Linked DNA regions of Homo sapiens: region 2 is linked to region 1. Evidence: fine-mapped expression QTL. Tissue or cell type: whole blood. Region 1 holds a variant in brackets; the other region holds the start of a gene. All regions are shown on one strand. Distances are between the middles of the regions.

Region 1 (2,761 bases):
GGTTTTAATATAATCATTCTAGATGCTGTGTTTTGCAAAGTTTGTTTGCTGGGGGCAGGGTGGAGGGGCAGTAGAAGCAAGGTAACGAGTAGTCCAGGAGAGAAGGGTGGGTCAGACCAGGGTAGCTACAGGATTTCTTGATGGCTTAGATGTTTAGGATATGAGAAAAAAAGAGAAGTCAAGGATTACTCCAGGATTTAGGCTGTTGAGATGGTTAGGGCAATTTATTGCCTACACTAAATATTTTCTTTTCTTTCTTTTTTTTTTTCTCTCTTTTCCCTCAGTGTCAAGCTATCAACTTGTGTTTGTTATTGCTGTTATTGTATCTGCTTCTAGTTTCGCTCACCTATTTTAGGATATATTACTTTTGTTTAAATCTTCTGTGGGCCAAAAAACACAAAAGTTTTAAAAATTGTATATTTAAAATAAGATTGTTGGTTTAACATAGGGCCTCTGAGTGAGAGTTTGTGTTGTTGTATTTAGGAGTAAAGTGAATCAGCCTTAATGCCAGGACTTCTAACAGTTGCATTCCCTGTGGAGGCCTTAAGCTTGCTTTTGAATTCAGTTATGTTGTTAATGATTAAGTTTGCCAGAACTCTAAATCTCTGAATGAGAATTCATTTATATTTACTTTATTTGTTTAAACAGGCAAAAGAATGGACCCCAGCAGGAAAAGCAAAGCAAGAGAATTCTGCTAAGAAGTTTTATTCTGAATCTGAGGAAGAGGAGGACTCTTCTGATAGTAGCAGTGACAGTGGTGGGTTTTATAATTTATTGGCATATATTATTTACATAGTAGATTACATTCTATATCTCAGAAACAAGGCCTAATCCATAATATTCAGCAGGTAGTTTTAAGTGAAGTTTGTATTATCAAAATAATCCCTTTCATTTATATATCACTCTTTAGTTTTCAAAGTAATTTTTAATTACTAAATTCTCTTTTTACTTTACAATATCTCTTGGATAGTAGCTGATACATTGGTATAGCTGAAACAGGAACTCATACTTTTCTGAATTCTAAACCACAATGCCTAATATATCTATTGAAAAACATAATTTTACACTTGATGAACTTTTAGTGGGGTCTTTAAAAGTAACTTTCTTTTACAAAAACGTAAAGTTTATTTTATACCTTGAAGAGTCTTTTTCTCTTTCATTTTATACTTATCTCTTTCTGTGAACCTCTATAGAGATAAAGCTAAAATTATTAAGTCTCTATATACTATAAAAAAATCAAACTAAAGGTTGAGGGTAACTATATGCAGTGAAAAGAATGCTTAATAGGAAGGATTTAGAGGCCCTGGCTTTTACCTATGCAAATTGAATAAGGCACCTACTTTTCTCTATATCAGATAAATGAAGGGGTACAGTTAAATATTTCTTAAAGTCCCTTCATTGCTAAAAT[TC/C]TGTGAGTGATTTGCATAATGAAAAATAGATTGTAGTCACTTTCTGATGCTCTTATTAACACTTAAGCTAATAGGCAAATCTGACCCAAGACCAAACGACACCCAACTTTCTCTAAAATCTTTATTCCTTGGAGAACCAGGGCCTGTCACTCTTACATGGTTATCTGCTACCCTACTGTAAGGTAATTCACTCTTCTTTTCTCTGTCTTCCTTATCAAAAATCTTTGTTTTTAGTATCTGATAAATTAATCTGTGATACATTACCTGTAATTTCTTTCATTGTTTATAGCATAAGCCAGTTATCTGACTTAATATGTATGTGCGTGTAACTTGGATATTACCACAAATCTAAAATGTCCTTATTTAGTAGCTTTATTTTAGTAAAATAAACTTTCCTGTTTGTAAATGATGATAATGATGAGTGCCTTACCCTGTGGCAGACCCTGTTGTGTTCTAATCTCCTTTGTATGTTTCAAATCATTTAATCTTCACAACAGCTCTGAAAAGTAACTAGTGTTATCCCCATTTGCTGAAAAGGAAACCAAAACCCAGAGAAGTTGAATAACTTGTTCAGTTTTACAACTGGCAAGTAGAAGAGCCAGGATCTGAATCCGAACACTAACTTGAGAACCCATGCTTGTACCCCTTGTAAGCCGTCTTAAAACAATACAGGCAGTCCTAGGTTTTCACTGTGATGGACCTTCCTGATGTTGGTATTATTTAACCATTAGAATGTTTAATTAAAGGTTATGTTCCTGCCTAAGAGGGCTTCGTTACATAGATCACAGGCAGGGCAACAGTTTGTCCTTTTGTCTGGGACACAACTCTGTAGTTATAGTCATTTTAAATAGTAAAAATTATGCTTCACTTAAAAAATACACATATATTCTTCATGTATTCTCTTCTGCGAACAGTCCTAGCATACCATAATTTACACATAAAACATTTAAAAGTATAATTCCTCAGTGTAACTTGATCATCTCTTTGACCTATGGAAAACTCGTTTACTAGCTCGAATAAGTAATAACTCTTTAATTAGTCATTTTGCCTATTGTCTTTGAATTTGGAGGTCTTTCCAAGTGATTTGAATGGCTCATTTTCCTCTCAAAATTTGTTCCTAAGAAGATTCAACTGTTGCCTTCTTTTACTCTAAATAGAATTTCCCATTACAAGCAGAAGAATTCAAAATTATTTCTTTAGCCTTACATCAATCCTTACGTAATTCTTTAAAAGAAAGTTTTTGACATAGCTATATACTTTGGGGTTTGAAGTGAGATTCCCTCAAATTTGGTTTACTTGGTTCACCTTTGCTTAGCTTTTCTCTCCTCGTTGTCAGAGCATCCTCTGTCTGC
Region 2 (2,500 bases), 180 kb before region 1:
CACCTGAGAAGGCGGGCTGGGGGAAGGCACCCCGGGAAAGAGGTTTTCTCGGGTGCCAGCACCCGGAGAGAGCTACTCTGGGGCCAGGCAAGCATCCCGCCTAGGCTCCCTAGTGCATATTAGTGAGTAACACGACTGGCGCGCGAGGTGGTCCATTTTATTTTTGGTAGCTAGACGCCAATAGGACGCACCACTTCAGCTCCAAACGGGAACTGGTGGCCCCAAGATGTTTTCTTTTCTTTTTCATTTTTTTGAGACAGGGTCTCGCTCTGTCGCCCAGGCTGGAATGCAGTGGAGAGATCTCAACTCATCGCTACCCCCTCCTTCTGGGTTCGAGTGATCCTCCCACCTCAGCCTCAGTAGCTGGGACCACAGACACGCGCCACCACGCCGGCTAATTTTTATATTTTTTGCAGAGAAAGGGTCTCGCTATGTTGCCTAGGCTGGTCTCGAACTCCTGGCCTCAAGTGATCCACCCGCCTCGGCCTCCCAAAGTGCTGGAATTACTGGCGTGAGCCACCGCGCCCGGTCTGCCCCCAAGACTTTCATTGAAAAGATGGAATGGTCGCTTCTGTGCGGATCCTCCAAACCATCGTTGGGAGAGGCCTCCTTAAAGTCTAGGAGAAAAGTTGTTTGGGACCGATATGAAAGTAAGGCAAAGCCGGATGGAAGAGAGTAGCCGAAACAAGCAAGAAAAGGAAAAGCGATCGTGATGGGTTTAGGAAAGGTGATCTGGCGTGCTAAATGGCATTTCCGGAGAAATCTGAAAACTATTGCTTTACTGAAGTATAGCAAAGAGCTGTCCGGGCTCTGGAAACTCCTTAACGGATCAAAACGGATGCAATGGGTATCCTTCTCCAAAGACACACCTCAAACGGGCCGGGAGCCGGGCAGTTAGCCACCCGCTGCCTCCCCTTCCGCAGTCCGGCTCGCAGCCGCTCAGCTACCTCTAAAGCCCGGAGCAGGAAAGTCCGCGCAGGCCTGGATGGCCCGGGTGGTAATCTAGCAGGCCTGCACACTGCGCATGCGCAGGGGGTGGACTGCCAGGTCGGCTCAGGGAGCCGTGACGAGTCCGGAAGCGCCTGCGCGCGCTCCTCCGTACGAGAACTAGTTTTGTTCCGTGCCCTCTGGACTGGAACCTTTTGGAGAGAACCCCCGGCAGGACCAACCCCGCACCCGCCAGCACCGCGGCAATGTCCAGCAATAGTTTTCCTTACAATGAGCAGTCCGGAGGAGGGGAGGCGACGGAGCTGGGTCAGGAGGCGACCTCAACCATTTCCCCCTCGGGGGCCTTCGGCCTCTTTAGCAGCGATTTGAAGAAGTGAGGAGAAAGGTTTGGGTTGCGGGGATGGGAGGGAGGAGCTGCGGACTCGGAGGAGTGGGCGCCAGGGTGGGCTTCCTGGAGAGGAGCGGGGTCGCCCTGAGGTCTGAGCAGGGCAGGGCGGTAACGTGTCCCGCGGGTGGGTAGGTGGGGTTGGTTGGCGGTGGTGGGAGTTGTGGGAGTTTGGGGCGAATGTGTGTAGGGGTCTCTAGTAGTTTTCAAACTTTAGTGAAAAGGAAACCACTTGGTGAGCTTAGATCCCACCCCTGAAGACACTGATTGAATTGGACTTGGGCTGGGCTCAGGAGTCTGAATTTTGAGCATCGTCTTCTAGTTTATTTACCGTTCGCCGGATCAGACTTTAATACATTCCCTGATTAGGGTGAAAGGAGTGTTTTGGTGAAGGTGAGAGTGCGAGTGTTGCTTGTGGGAAGTTATTTTGTGACCCCGGAGTGTAGGAGCAGAGAGGTGGATTTAGGCTGTTTGAATGGACAAACTGGTTTACACCAGTATTAATGTTCTTGGATTATGTCCTTTGCACTACAGACAAAAACACCAATCCAAAATAAGCATATGAATAGAAAATATTTTAAAAGAGTGTTACTGTGAACAAATCCAAAACTTTTACAGATTAATAATGTGAATTTTAAAAACGAATGTTAAACAAGGTACACTTAGTTTTGTAAAAAGTATCACCGAGAAATGGAAAGAAATCCCAAGTTGTTTGTTTTGGGGGGTGGGTTGGTGGTAGTGGTTACATTTACCAGAATTATCATTTTTACATTTCTCTTATTTTAAATCTTTCATTACTAAGCAATAGGGTCACATAATAGTCTGTCACTAAATTCATGCTAAATTAAGGTAGAATAGCTGTGCTAGTAGCTTTGCAGATCTGTTAGAGGGTATAATTAAAATTTAAATTAAACGTTACTAACAATATTGGGTAGTCTAGAAAGTGCTACTACTTCAAATTGGGATTACATTTTGGCTGTATTGAGGATCAAAATCATATATATAGCATGTAAGATACAATCTTTTCCTTTTTCCCAAGGTTAGAAAAGTTTAAAAGTAAGGTAACTGATTTCATTTTTCATTATATGCATTTGATGATCCATTGTTCTAGAACAAGTACGGAGCTTGTTGCCTCTACTATTAGCAAAATGTTTAGACTGAATTAAC

The links. PIP is the estimated chance that this variant, and not a neighbour inherited with it, causes the effect.
Region 2: it holds the start of AP3B1, and the variant in region 1 is fine-mapped to the expression of AP3B1 in whole blood (TOPMed, PIP 0.93).

What each region holds. Positions count from the first base shown.
Region 1 is chr5:78,114,122-78,116,882 of GRCh38, reverse strand. AP3B1 (adaptor related protein complex 3 subunit beta 1) reads left to right here. Exons shown (of 27, transcript NM_003664.5): 18 at 649-757. Among named protein-coding and RNA genes, the nearest start is that of AP3B1, 180 kb to the left of the region's middle. The variant TC/C (reference allele first, on the strand shown) is at 1,409.
Region 2 is chr5:78,293,273-78,295,772 of GRCh38, reverse strand. It overlaps AP3B1 (adaptor related protein complex 3 subunit beta 1), which reads left to right and starts at 1,075. Exons shown (of 27, transcript NM_003664.5): 1 at 1,075-1,321. The coding sequence starts at 1,194. RefSeq lists an enhancer at 239-812.